Homo sapiens: one gene and its partners. The protein of the gene in region 3 purifies or fractionates together with the protein of the main gene of each other region. This does not show direct contact. Each region holds a gene or a part of one and is shown on either strand. Other genes may lie near its edges.

Region 1 (3,500 bases), on a different chromosome or scaffold from region 3:
TGTTTTATCTCTGGCCACACAGCAGACATCAAATCCATGCTTAAAGTGAAATATTATTGGCCGGGAGCAGTGGCTCACGCCTGTTATCCCAACACTTTGGGAGGCCGAGGCGGGCAGATCACCTGAGGTAAGGAGTTCGAGACCAACCTGGCCAACATGGTGAAGCCCCATCTCTAATAAAAATACAAAAATTTGCTGGGCATGGTGGCACGTGCCTGTAATCCCAGCTACTCAGGAGGCTGAGGCAGGAGAATTGCTTGAAACCAGGAGGTAGATGGTTGCAGTGAGCCAAGATTGTGCCATTGCACTCCAGCCTGGGCAACAAGAGTGAAACTCCATCTCAAAAATAAATAAATAAATAAAATAAAGCGAGATATTATTAAGCCTCTGAGGGGTGTGATGAATGTCACTGTCTTTAGGATGGGAAAATCCACTTATTCCCTTCCACAGTGGAGTGGAAGACCAGCACCTGAAGTTGGAACCAACACTTAAAACAATTTCTAATCCTTTTTGTACTTTAATATTGTCGGGGACTGCTTACTATTTAATAAGTGCTCTTCCTGGGTTAATCTTCTGTAATTTAGCCAGAGGCCCATTTGTTTGATTTCTGTGACTTTTAATTATTCCGGCGGTCCCTGGGGTAGGAGCAGCAGGGGTGTCTTAGAATAGGCGTACTATGAACAGCTGTGATTAATTGGTCTTGCATTTTTCATGAAACAGGTATAAACTTCGACCCAAGCGGATCGAAGGTTCTGAGGAAAGATGGAATTCTTGTTAGCAACTCTCTGGCAGCCTTTGCTTACATTAGAGGTAGGTCAATGAATCAAAGCTTCCTAGAATGCTGATGGATTTACTAAAGTCTTGTTAATAAATGTGCTGTTCAATTATAGCACTCAGATAACTAAAGGACGATGACTTCAAGTTTAACATGCCAACCACCACTTCTAAGATTCAGAAACACAGAGGCCTGAGTTCAGGCACAGTTGTAACCAGGCAGTCAGCAAGAGAACCACATAAACAGACAAAGTCACACTATTTAGGAGTTGAGCTCCACAGATATTTTTCGCTTTTGAAAAGTAGAAACCCGAGGAATGCATTTCCCAGCTCTAAAATTCGGGAAGGAACTAGGATTATTGAATTCCAGCCCTGACTGGAAGAAAAATGAGCCAGAAGGTCACTTAGTAAACAAGACAGATCATGCCCCATGAAGACAGAGCCACTTTCTGGGTCATGAGTGTTATTCCTAATAGTTGTCAAGGATTCCCTTGTTAGTCTTCCCCATGAGGATCAATCAGACTCAGCCCTCATGAATTAGCAGAGCCAGAAGGCTTATACCAAGGCCGGCCACACCGCGGGGACCTCTTCATTGAGGGGAAGGTATGTACAATTTTTCCTCACCACCCTCTCTGCTTATCTTAAGATAGAACACATTTTGGAATGCCATCTGCAAGTTTCAGCAATGCCTGCCTATGTTCAGAGAGACAAAAACCAGAGACCTTCAGTAAAATACATGTTAATATAATACATAACAGTATTGCTATTCAAGGCCTGCAAAGATGGGCTATTTGGGGTAAGCCTGTCTCAGAGGAAAATAGAGGCTTAGGGAATGTATTTGTCTGTTCTCATGCTATTAATAAAGACATACCTGAGGCTGGGTAATTTATAAAGGAAAGAGGTTTAATGGACTCACAGTTCCACATGGTTAGGGAGGCCTAACAATCTCGGTGGAAGGTGAATGAGGAGCAAAGTCACGTCTTACTTGGTAGCAGGCAAGAGAGCTTGTGCAGGGGAACTCCCCTTTATAAAACCATCAGATCTCGTGAGACTTATTCACTATCACCAGAACAGCATGGGAAAGACCCACCCCATGATTCAATTACCTCCCACCATGTCCCTCCCATGACACATGTGGATTATGGGGGCTATAATTCAAGATGAGATTTGGGTGGGGACACAGCCAAACCATATTGGGGAATGATCTCAATACATGAGATGCAAAGTTCAGTCTTGGGGTCCCCTGCTGTTCTATTGTCCTCCTGCGTCAGGATTCCTCCTGTGTGTGTGTTGTGTGGTTGATGGTTTCTTCTGTGGGTCCTCTCTTTTCTAGCCACCTTCTCATTTTCATGTCTTGCTGTTCCTGATCATTGTCAATGTTAAGAACTGTAAGGATTTTTACTGTCAGAAATATCCCCATATTTACAAAGTCCTTGGGGAGCTTCTTGGAGAAAAGCCATCATGAAAATCCTCCAGACAGAGAATAACGATTGAAGGGGAACGAGACCGACATTGCGCTCAGTGAGCTGTGGCCTTGCTGTGTGCTTTACCCCAACTACCTTGTCCGTTCCTCTCAACAACTGCCTTAGCCAGCCCAGCTGCCATAACAAAGTACCCGAGACCAGATGGCCTAAATAACAGACATTGATTTTCTCACCGTTCTGGAGGCCAGAATTTCATGATCAAAGTATCCACCAATCACTTTCCGGTAAGGGCTCTCTTCCTGGGTTGTGGACAGCAGCCTTCTTGCTTGTCCTCACATGGCAGAGAGGGGGAGAGACAGAGACAGAGACATCTCTTCTTTTTATAAAACCACCAATTCTATCAGATTAGGATTCCCCCCTTATGGCCTCCTTTAACCTTAATTAGCTCCTAATGAGTGAACTGGGGGCAACACAATTCAGTCCATAGCAACAACCCTGAGAGATGGGACTCTGATCCCCTGTTCTGCACTTGAAGCCGGTGGTCAGAGGAGTTGAGCCATTTGCCTGAGGACACCATGGACAGCGGCAGGGCCAGGATTCAGGCTCAGCTAATACAAGGCTTGCACTCCAGCTACTCTGAATTTTGAGGGATGCAACCACCTCCCCACTCTGATCCTGAGTTGTCTAAATTAGCTTTCCTCCATCTCTTTCTATCCTTTTATGTGATTGTCATTCCCAGAAACCACAGGATAGAGATATTCGTTTAGTGACTATCTCTCCTGCTAGTGGCTCAGCTCCACAGGGTCAGGTGCCTTGTCATCTTATTTTGTGTGGTATCCCTGTATCTAGGATGCGGTGCTGGTACAGAACAGGTGCACAGTCAGTAGTTAAGGAACAACTGAATGATGACTGCTGATATGGGCTTATGAGCTTTTTCCTGTGCTTTATTGTCATCCAATATTTGCTATTTATAAGATGTCCATTTTTTTAAAATGTAAGGACTTGATGAGCTGTTATTTGATTTTATTGAGGGGTGTTTGGTGACATTTATCTTAGCAAACCATGACCACGCCTCCATATAATGTCCAAGAGAAAGAGTCTCTAAATGCACTGTGTTGGATGTTAGCTAAATGAAATCACCACAAGAAGCTCGTGACTCAAATCACAGAGGCTCACAAAGCCCTAGTAGAACAGGTGCCTCTGGGCTTGCCTGTGGGTTTTCTTGGTGTGTCTATGTCGCTGTCTGGGTGGCCACTCTAGAGGTGGGAAGCATGCAGTGCATGCTCAGGGGTCTGCAGGCCA
Region 2 (4,288 bases), on a different chromosome or scaffold from region 3:
GGGTATCTTATCCATTTCTGTATCCCAGTGCCCAGCACATTGTATTTGTTAAGCCATATTTTATATTTTATTAGCCAGTATCTCCTTCAAATGTGGGAGCCCATAATTTTCCAGTTTGGTCACACCAACAAAGACTAGAGAGGAATGACAGGGTTGGAATAGAATTCTCTGGTTCCTTCCAGCTCTAATATTCTATGATGGTGTGAACTTGTTCTATCAAGTACCATTGTATTAACACAGTAAGGAATTTAATTAGTGGTCTGCTATTGTTAATTTGTTTTGGTAAGCAACTGTTAAATGAAATGGCTGGAATCAGTGTTCCATTCATAAATTTAACAAACATTTGTCGAGTGCCTACAATGTGTTAGGCACTATATATATTGTCCCATATAACAGATTTAAGAGCAGAGGGCCTAGGATAGGGGTGAGTGGTCAGGAGAGGTGATGGGGACCTCCCATTGCTAATGCTCCAGGAGGTCCAGGGTTCTTTGATGTGGCTGGCACTATTCTGCTTATCACTGAGGAGAGAAGAGGCTCCCAGTGGCCTGAGTGGAGGGGTTACCAAGCTGCAGCTGCAAGGGACACAGAGCAGCATTCACCAAGGCACAACAAGCAGCCTCTATCTGCTTCACCACTGAGGAGCCGAGGGCCCTCACACAACAGCTGTTTCAGGCAGTGGGAGGAGAGGAAGATGTGGTCTTCAGGTCCACCCTGCCACAGGGCCAACACCAGATTTGACGCCACATCTAGCGCTTGAGGCTTCTTCTGTGGCTGAACAGCGGCTTTAGGCTTTCTCTGCACGATCCTTCCTTTCTGCTTTCATAGGCCTTGTCAGGCAGGGCAGGGTTTAGCAGTTGCATTCTAAGGCGAGGAGAGGAGGGCTCAGAGCATTGCAAGACCTAAAGGGGAGGGTCAGAGCCAGGACAAGAACCTAGGGGTACTCCTGCCCCTGGAATAATGGAGAGAACATGGGCTCCGCAGTCTACCCCTGGATGAAATAATCTTCATTTGATTACCGCTCCACCCGCATCCTTTCTGAAACAAAGTACCTCAGTTTCCTCATTTGTAAATTAGGGAGAAAAATGTCCTTCTTACAGGGTTCCTTGCAGAATCAACGGCATAATGTGAGTGAGAGCGCTTTGTAACTAACATACAAAGTGCTCTCCAGACATTTATTACCGTTTTAAACCGCCAGGCCAAGCTTCCTCTTGCAATTATAGATTAGGGGCTCCTACTCATCTGACTTTGTTCCACTTTCCACTCCTCTTCTCCGTCCCTCCCCCTCCAACAAAGAGAGGAAGTGAGAGACGCAGAGGCACGCGTCTAAGGACCAGCTTAGCTGGCCCAGGGTCACATGCAGGCCTCCGCCACAGGGGTGAGAGCTGGTGTGAGGGGCGCCCCCGCCCAGAACTACATTTCCCATCAACACTTTCGCGACTCCTGGGCGGCAGCGGCCAGGCGCATGCGCCGAGTATCGCCACGCCTGGTCTCTGGGACGCCCCTCCGGACCGGTTTCGCCTCGCGGAGCCGGTAGGTCCAGGTGCAGCGGCCGCAGTGCTGCGTCCGTGCGCCGCGGGCTGGGGCGGTCTCAGGTGTGCCGAAGCTCTGGTCAGTGCCATGATCCGGCAGGAGCGCTCCACATCCTACCAGGAGGTACGAGGTTGTGAGAGACGGAAGGGAAGTTTGAGGCGGAGGAGCAGGGTCCCGGGGGCCTGGGCGGATGCGGGGCGGGGGGTGTCGGGGCTGCGCGGCAGAGGGCTCTTCCGAGGGACCGACGGGTGCGTCAGGGGAGGGCTCCCGGGGTGCAGAGGAGCGGCCCAGGGGCAGGAAGGAAGCGGGGCAGCGGAGCGGGCGCCCAGCGTTCTCCGTATGCTGCGGGTTGCATGGCCGAGGTCCGGAGTAGGGTCCCCGGCGCCGCGACCCGTAACCAGCAGGTGAATGATTGAAGCTACCTGAGGCCCAGCCTTCCGCGCTCCCCGCCGGAGCGGCAGCCCAATGGCCCAGAGGAACCCGGCGTTCTTTGCAACAAGTGGAGCGCCCGCGCCCTCCTCCCGGCGAGATCTGATGCGCGGTCGGCATCGTCGGCATCCTCCCCCTCCAAGCCCAAGGCCTCGCTGTCCCCGCGGCTGGTGACAGGATTGATTACCTGTTTTTTGGTGACCACCTAACTTTGAAAAAGTGCCTTCATGGACTCTGCTAGTTCTCGCTCCTCTTCGTCTCTCCCTCCAGTCTCACCTCCTCCCACGACTTTATCACTTTCCAGTTCTTTGTCTCTTCTCTGTCCTGCGCTGCAGGCTGTGCGTCCAGCGCTTCCTTCAAGCAAGCCCTGCCTCCTCACTTCTCCAGCTGTATTAGTGAAACTGCTCTCCTCCTCCGCCTCCACTTCTCGGCCCCCAAACCTTGGTCATCTTTGGCAACCGTCCTCTTCTGTGCCCCTCCATCGTGCCGCCTCATTGGCCAAAGTCAGGCAGTTCCAGGTCGGTCCTCCTCCAGTTTGTGTCCCTGTGTTTGCTGTAACCTCTGAGTGCGATACTGTGTTACCATCGCTCCCTTTAGTCTCTTATACTCTCCAGATTTGCCTTGAGGCCCTGCCTTCACCTCGGAGCATTCCTTTTTTCTCAGACCTGACGCTGCCCTTCGTCTGCCCAGAACAGTCCAGACTTCTCAGCAGGCTCCCAAAGCTCTGAACAGCACAGCAGCCATGTCTCCCATTACCTTTGCCACCTCCTAACCCACCTAGGGTCTGGCACAGTGGAAACTCAGTTTTAAAATGTGCTCCTGCCTCTGTGCGTGTGCTCACTCCATTCCTTCATCAACGCTCCGCCAAGCTCCATTGGGTAAAATGCCCCCAGAAGTCAAGGGCTACCTCAAGTTCCATGTGTTCCATAGGGGTCCGCTTTCCAGACCCGTCTGCATTTCTGTCTGTCCTTCTCATAATGAACTTGCTGCCTTCTGTCTTAGTCAATAGTTACTGCTGTACATATCTCCCTTTGTAAAAGACTGATTCACAGAAGGGCTTTGTGGACTATATAAAGCAGGTGGCTTAGCCCTACAGTGGAGGGAGAAGCCAACTTGAAGGCAGATGAGATTTGCCTAAGGCTTGCCATTTTTTAGTGTAGGATCTTGGCTGGAATCTGGCCTTGGACAGATTTCTATATTTCTCCTCCCATCCCCTTTATTCCATCTGTTTCCTTTGTCTGAAAGGAGTCTGAGGGATTTTAACCAGTGCTGTGGATTCCATGACCCCTAGATTCTGTACCCTAAACAGTGGGGGAATCCTGGGGAATGAGATGTGTCTGAAAGTTTTTAGGTTTATAGGGTGTGGAGCACAGTGGATAAAAGTCAGAAAGCCCACGTTCGTGCCTGGCTGTGCCTCTTGCTGTTTGTGTGACTTTTATTGAGTCACATAACTTTCTGAGCCTCAGTTTCTTTGTCTGAAAGATGAAGATAATAAAAGTCCCTACCTCCCAGGGTTGTTTGGGGATTAGATAAGTTGGTGTGGAAAGCGCTTGGCTCAGTGTCTGGCAAATGGTGACCCCACAGTGAATGATAGCTCTTGTTAACGGTGTGGGCAGCTCCTGCGTCCAGGATGCTTTGGGGTCCTGGCTTAGCAGGAACATGTGCCTCACCATCCACACATAGCCAGCCTAGCAGGGCTTATAAAATGTTTATTAAAATATAGGCACTTACCCCGCTTGGAGGGCCAAGGCCCAGGGTAGACTCAGTTTCTCTTTGGAGGCATCTCCAAAGTGGGAGGCACTGGAAGGGTGCCCTCCCCTTGCCTTCTTCAGAGGCCTGTTCTGGAGTCCCTGTCTCTCACTTCCTCAGAGAATGGGGCCACCCAGAAAATGGCCGGCGTCTTTCTTCCTGAACCATTCTGTGAGTGTACCTAGCTCTGAGTAGGTTTATTTGCTGAGGGGGGATTTTTCCTTGGGGAGGGTGGGATATACTGAGAATTTGGCCAGGGGCAGGCAAGGAGGCAGGCTCATTATGGCTGTGGGTAGTCAGGAAGGGAACCTGGTGGGAGGGTGTTAGCACCTGGGTCAGGGTGAACCTGAGTGAGGCTTGAATCAGGGAACTTTGAGATTTCCCAGGACTAACATCCTCCTCTCCCTTTGGCCAGTGAGACCTCTTTATCTGTGCTCCTGCTAGTGGCTTATATCTCTTGGTGCCTTCACCAGCCTCCCTGCCCTTTCCCACTGGTTGCTTTTCTTTTCTTTCTTTTTTTTTTTTGAGACTGAGTTTCACTCTTGTCACTCAGACTGGAGTGCAATGGTGCGATCTCGGC
Region 3 (3,500 bases):
AGTCTCAGCTACTCGGGAGGCTGGGTGGAGGATCCCTTGAGCTCAGGCGTGTGAGGCTACAATCAGCTATGACTGAACCACTGCACTCCAGCCTGGGTGACACAGCAAAACCTAGTCTCTAAAAAAACTAAATAAATAAAAAATAAAAACCACTAACTAAGAATATTTATATAAAAACATCACAATTGCTCAAAATATTTGCAACCCCTCTCTATCAGACCCATCCTCAGAGGTCCCCAACCCCCACCACCACCACTTAGTGCCCTCACTGTGGGGGGACGTACATTTCCCACCCCATTCGTTGTATGATTTGCTTTGGCCAAGAAGATGTGAGAGGAAGCGGTTCAGTCTACGATGGAGCAGAAGATTTTAAGAGCCAGTGCATGGTCCACCATTGTGTTTTCCTGCTGTGAGAGCAGAATATGTGAGATAATAGTTTCTCCTTCTAGTACGAAAACAGCATGGAGTACAGCCACTATCAACTCATATAACTCACAAAATATGTAAAAAAATAGACCTTTGTTGTAAGTCATAGATTTGGGGATTATTTGTTATCACAGCTTAACTCAGCAAAAGCTTACTAATCATTTTAACAATGTCATTGCTTGGAGGTAGGCAGCTGCAGTGCATTCAGAAAAGCACTGGCCCTGAAATCGGAAAACCTAAATTCCACTTCCATCTGGCTGCGCGACCCAGGTAACTCATGACCACATGACTCCCATTTCCACAGCTGGTGGTGTGGGTGATAGCATGTCCTCTACCACTTATTAGCTATGCAGCTCTGGCCAAGGAATTTAATCTGTCTGTGTCTTAATTTCTTCATCTGCAAAATCGGAATAAAACTATACACCTCACAGGGTTGTTCTGAAAATTCACAAGTTAAAACATATAAAGTTTGTAGAGGAGGGTCTGGCACATAGTAAACACTCAATACATGTTTATTATGTTATTGTCCTATTGCTATTACTATTGCACCTTTTTCATAGGTTTTAGAGGCCTAAAGGTGTTTGGGGAAGTGCTCTGTAAACTATAAAGTGCTCTGTAGATATATATGGTTATAAAGAACTTTCCACATCTCATTTGCAACCCTTTGGTAGTTATGAGGAACTCGGTAACAGCAGGGTTTTTGTCAGGTTTACTGTGGTATCCCAGGCCTTCAAATATGAGCTGGCACGTAGTAGGCATGTAATTATTTGTTGAATGAATGAAGGAAAATCGTGGTCTCCTTTGTAATCCACTCAATGCAGATGCTATTTTAAAATTACATTGTTACTGACTGAATCTCCGCCAGTTCCATAAATCAAAGCTTCATATACGCAAGCTTATTTCAGGTACTGAGTATATTTAACCATCTACTTAAATTACCCAACTTACTAGATCTATGTTAAACAAAAATACCACATGTCATCACTTTTCAGCAGAGATCAGAATAATTGGTACTACACATTAGAAGAATCACCTCAAATTAAAGAATGTACAATAATGCCTTTGATCACTGTACAATAGAGTACATGTCAACATTTTTTATACTCTGAATGATGAAAATGGTCTAAGAATTTCCATTTTTTTTCTTTGACAATAAGGCTAAGACTATTGATATACTTTTTTAGTGACACTTTATTTTTATTTAAAATTTTTTTTATTATACTGTAAGTTCTGGGATGTATGTGCAGAACGTGCAGGTTTGTTACACAGGTATGCGTGTGCCGTGGTGGTTTGCTGCACCCAGGCACTTTATATTTTAAAAGCAAATTTTAACTGAAATATAGTGAATAAAATAATGAAATGTATTTCATATATGCTTGCTTAAAAGCCTAAAGGCAATTATAAGTGATGTATTTCAGATCAACTTTCAAAACTGCATATTTGAAGTCCAAATTATCTGAAAATCCCCCATTAAATAAAGTTAAATAATATTTTCTATGTCACTGACAAACAGCAATGGCACTATTGTACTTCATGGCTTAGGAAACACAGAAGAGTTTGCGTGGGGAGCTTTGCAGGGAAAGGGTGAGGGTGCATTTGCTAGAGTTTGGGAAGTTATTTTTAAGACTTCTCACCAATGTTCACAGTTCTTTATTTTTCCCAATAAAATTTTGTTAAGTATTGAAAATAATTCTGCTTTTACTCATATCACAGAATTATAAAATCCTAGAATTAGGTATAATCTGAGAGGTTGCCTGAGCCATCCTTGGTCCAGTTGCTACTGCGATTTACTTATTTGTCATTTCAGTAAACACTGACTGAGCATCCACCCGCAGGTACTTGCCAGAGATATAACATGGACAGAAAACAAAGTCACTGGCCTGAAAAATCTTAAAATCTAGTAAATTAAAGCTGTCCTTGCCTAACAACACTTTGTGACTAGAAACTAACAGCGCAGCTTTGTGAAGCTGCTCGTTCCATTTTTGGATGGATGAGGTCAAGGGTTAAAGTGCTTCCTTCTAAGGCGGGTGAGTTCTGCCTTAGCCATGGCCCCTTTCAATGGTCTGAGGGCCACTCTATGGAACCATCATCTGTGTAATGCTTCCAGTAGATCACATCTCAAATAATCAGACATTTATCATGGCTCTCTCTCCAGTCTTCTCTTCGTAAGACAACCAACCCCCAGTTCCGACTGCGCTCTTCATAGGGTTTTTCTTCCAAACTCCTCACCATTCTGGTATCCACCTCTATATGTCAATTTCTTGCTGCAGCACCTCAGGACTGATCAGCACACAGAGAAACACATTGCCTTCCCTTTCCAAAATCACATCTAACTCGTTTCTCTTTGCTCATTAGATTCTAGCTCGACTCATATTTTTCTGTCCTTCAAAAACACCATTTCTGGTGTTCTTCGCATCTTTACATTTGCCCATCTCTGCGTCCTCCCACAGCTGCCCACACGGCTGGTTCCGTCTCATCCTGAGAGCTTCGATGTGGGCATCGCCTCCGCAGAGAGGCATCCCTCGTGATCCACCTCAATCAACTTCCCCTCCACTCCCAGTCACTACCTCATCTCTCGTTTTAGTCTCAGTTTAACAGCGATGATTATCGGAACTTATCTTCTTTGTTTAGTTATTTACTGGCGGCTTCCTCCCTAGAAAGTGAGTTCATCCCTGCACTGCTGTCGTCTGCAATAATGCAAGGCAAAGCGAAGGACGAGAGGGAGGGAACGCCCCCGCCCTGGAACCTACATGGCATGATTCATATCTCTCTATTTCTTATGAATACAGTCAAGACGGCACAAGCTTTTCTGGCAGACATAGCCCATTTGTTTAAGGTCAATAAAACCGTGTCTTTGTCACATACGGACGAGACACATTCTTACGTGATGGGATCGTGCTGCAGAATTTTAGAAGGAGGGCTGGTTTGCTGGATTCAAACTACTACTCCGGCTCTATTTTTAGTCTCTTATCCAACACCACCTCCTTCCTGTCAACAATGGCTTTGATACCCACACCATCTATATCCTAGAAAAGGAAGACATTTCTACCTCCTGTGCTCTTTCAGAGCGGGGC
Region 4 (3,500 bases), about 84 Mb from region 3:
GAGGCTGGAGGATGGCTTGTGCCCAAGAGTTTGAGACCAGCCTGGGTAACATAGTGAGACCCTATCTCTACAAAAAAAAATTAAAAATTAAAAATTAGCTGGGTGTGGTGATGCGTGCCTGTAGTCCCAGCCACTTGGGAGGCTGAGGTGGGAGGATCACTTGAGCCTGGGAGGTTGAGGCTGCAACTGCACTCCAGGGTGACAGAACAAGACCCTGTCTCAAAAAAAAAAAAAAAAAAAAAAAAAAGTATGTTGAAGGAAAGAATTACAAAATCATCAGAAAGTACGTAGGAATCATCTCCTCTAACTTCCTAGTCAGTGAAGCATTCTCCATTGTATCGTGCCTACCTTTCTAAGCATGGATCTGTTTTTGGACCACTTTAATTGTAGAGTTTCATCTGTTCAAACTAGATGTTATCTGTCTCCCCATCATTTCCATCCTCCTAATTTACTGTTCATTTAAAATTTTTATTTGGAAACATTAAACCAATAGGAAAATTGCAAGTAGTATAGAGAACCTGTTTTTATCCTGTTTGAGACAAAGTTGCCAGCATGTTGGCTATCACACAAACAGTTGAGTATGTATTTTCTGTAAACTGGACTATTCTCCTAGATCACCACAGTACAACCATGAAAGCCAGGAAATTACCAATGATACATTAACACCATTTAATCCTTAGATTTCATCCAAGTTTCCCAGTTGCTCCCATAATGTTTTAAAGCAAAAGAATTCAGGTCAGAACCACACTTTGTATTTAGTTACATGTTTTTAGTCTCTTTCAGTCCTTCACTATCATGCTCTTGATACTTTTGACAATTATAAGCCAGTTATTTTGCAGAATGTCCCTCAGTTTGTGTTTGTGCCATTTTCACAAGCTTAGATTCAGGCTGTGCATCTTTGGTAGGAATAGTACAGAAATGGTGCTGCGTTCTCATTGTACCCTATCAGGGTGGCATTGATTTCTGTTTGTCCCATTACTGATGATGGTCACTTGATCAAGGTGTTGTCTGCCAGGCTTCTCTACCATATAGTTACTCTTTTCTCATTTGTAATTTATAAATGTTTTATGGCAAATTACATTGAAACCATGTAAATAGCCTATTCCTCATCAAATTTTCAATCTGTTATTTATTTATATCAGTAAGAACTTAGTGTCTTCCTTTTTTCAGTGTGGTTTAATGTTACTGTCATTACTTTATTTAAAATGGCCCTAGGTTTGGCCAGTGCAGTCTTTTCACATTGGCTCCTGTGCTCTTTTAACTCCCATCAGTCTTTGAGCACCATCTTGCTCTCTGGCAGAATAAGATGTTCCAAACTCATTTTGTGATTTACCTGTGTCATCTTTTGTATCAGACATTTCTCCAAGGAGCTATTGAATGGAGAATGGAATTTAGAAGCCAAGATCTGGTTGCTTGGTGTGCTCATTGCTATTAGGGTGTTGCTACTCTGTGTATATACAGACACACATGTACATCTGTAATTCTGTATCTATGTACTTTTAAAACCATGAGTTTACAGTCATACCTTAAATTCCTGTCTGATACCACAGGGTTTAGTTTTTCCTCTCCATATTTTATAACTGCTTTATTTGACAGTGAGATTCTTGGTTCGCATTATTCTTAACAGTTTACTTATTTGGTAAATCTCCCCATATGTAACCAATCTTCTGCAGCTGCCACCACCTTTCCTCCTGGGGCTGCCCTCCTCAGCTGTTAGTGCTCTAGCATCCTGTGCCACCACCCCCATCCCCATATGGATACCTTTCTCCCTGAGATACCCTGCTCTGGGCTTCCACAGCATCCCTCTTCCTACGTTTTTGTAAACGTAGGAAGCCTACCAGATTGGACCTACCTAATGGCTTTGAATTTTCAGGAAGGAGAAGGCGAAGAGCCTCGGCTACTCTTGAATGATGTAAAATAAGACTTATCTTCCTTCCCCATGGTCCTTCATTATTTAAAAATAGCCATTATGTCATTCCTAAACATTCTGTTTTCCACCTTTAAAAGCTCCTAGTTCCTCCATGTGTTTACACTAATGATGTTTTTCTTGTAAGCATCTCAAAGAGTCTTCCAAACATATTATATCTTTGTGACAGATGAAGAAATTGGAGTACAGAGATGTGGAGTAACTTTTGAGATGTTGAAGAGCATGTCAGGGTTCGGTTTTAGAGTGTTAGGTCTACATATACTGTTTCCAGATTGTTCTTTGCCCTGGTCACGGTGCTCTGCCTAGGGTCCCATTTGGACACACCTCTATTAATGCAGCAACCAGAATGAAACACGTTGTTCACAGGCTTTTCTAACCATCCGAAGAGCAGCAGGCTCTTGAACTCTCCCTTCAGTCCCTAGGCTGTGCTGTGCCTGGTGGCAGAAGCCTCTGCTACTGTCTGGAATTGACTTTGAGTAAGTTACTTTCACAGATTAGTTCCTCAGTTGCTCATCTAAAAAAACCAGGAAAATAATTTTCTGCAAAGTTGTTATCCAGTATTATGTGAGATCATGCATATCAACGTGCTTCATAAATGGTAAATCTCTAAATACAAATACTAGTTATTAACCCAGGCTAAACTGCACTTGCTTTCCCTGGCAGCCAACGAACACTTTGGCTTGGATTGACTTTTTAGTGAAATAAAACCTTCACTTTTTCAAGTGAACTCTATTAAACCATCCCCCTAAGCTATATGCTAATCAGAAGCCCTAACCCTCCAGTTAATTATTTGAATTTAGATTTAGTTCTGTTTATTTCTCCCATTTAAATGTCTTATTCTGGCCCATTGGATTTCAAACCTGCTACCAGCAATCCTAGGCCTCCTTGAGGCGTATGTGGGTGGGTGGGTCTGTGCTGGTGGGGTGTGGACTGAGCAGTACCTCTCTTTCCTCCAGAAAAGCTTGGTTATTAGTTTGATATTTTGGGATACTAAGAAAGATTTTGCTTGAAAAAAGGGGTCCCACCACTTAAGAAAGAAAAGAACCAGTATTCTAGCCTTTAGATGTCTTTGAATCTTGATGGCCAAAGTACATTTTTAAAAAAATTACTCCTCGTGTGGGTTTTTATCTCTTGGAATCTCTCCATGCATGGGAAGTCCCTCTCACTAACTAGGGGTCACTTCTGTAGGATTAGTTGATATTTCACCCCTTTATGCATGTAGTGTGGCAGCCTGATTAGTAAGGAAATTTCAGTCTTCCCACTGGGAGATCTGGTTCAGTAGGTCCATCCAGGATGGGGTCCTGGAATTTCTGTTAAGAAAAAAATCAAAACTTCCTGCAGGTCATTGTGATGCCCAGCTGAGTTTGAGAAGCTTTAGCTTGTTTTTCTTGGGAAGATGTGGCCTCTCCTTCCCGTTGCTCCCTGGAGGGGATGTGTGGGAGAGCTGGGCGTGGGTGGTGTAGAGCGGTGACCATTTCACCAGCACATGAAGCTAGTGTTCTTTGCTTACGAGAAAAAAAAGGTGGCCTATTTTATCCCTCATGGAATTTTTTATTAATCCAAAAACGCCAGT

What was found. The genes of interacting proteins can lie anywhere in the genome.
Region 1: the proteins of TENM3 (region 3) and EVA1C purify together in Homo sapiens (co-immunoprecipitation; one large-scale study listed by IntAct). This does not show direct contact.
Region 2: the proteins of TENM3 (region 3) and PACC1 purify together in Homo sapiens (co-immunoprecipitation; one large-scale study listed by IntAct). This does not show direct contact.
Region 4: the proteins of TENM3 (region 3) and TSPAN5 purify together in Homo sapiens (co-immunoprecipitation; one large-scale study listed by IntAct). This does not show direct contact.

What each region holds. Positions count from the first base shown.
Region 1 is NC_000021.9:32,503,206-32,506,705, forward strand, and holds part of EVA1C (protein eva-1 homolog C isoform 1 precursor), read left to right. Parts: intron 1-720; coding exon 721-810; exon of another isoform or gene 811-898; intron 899-3,500. UniProt on the Homo sapiens protein: Binds heparin.
Region 2 is NC_000001.11:212,412,087-212,416,374, reverse strand, and holds the start of PACC1 (proton-activated chloride channel), read left to right. Parts: upstream 1-1,488; 5' UTR 1,489-1,617; coding exon 1,618-1,653; intron 1,654-2,294; coding exon of another isoform or gene 2,295-2,477; intron 2,478-4,288. UniProt on the Homo sapiens protein: Chloride channel gated by pH that facilitates the entry of chloride ions into cells upon exposure to extracellular acidic pH. Involved in acidosis-induced cell death by mediating chloride influx and subsequent cell swelling.
Region 3 is NC_000004.12:182,246,402-182,249,901, reverse strand, and holds part of TENM3 (teneurin-3), read right to left. Parts: intron 1-3,500.
Region 4 is NC_000004.12:98,648,612-98,652,111, reverse strand, and holds part of TSPAN5 (tetraspanin-5), read left to right. Parts: intron 1-3,500. UniProt on the Homo sapiens protein: Part of TspanC8 subgroup, composed of 6 members that interact with the transmembrane metalloprotease ADAM10.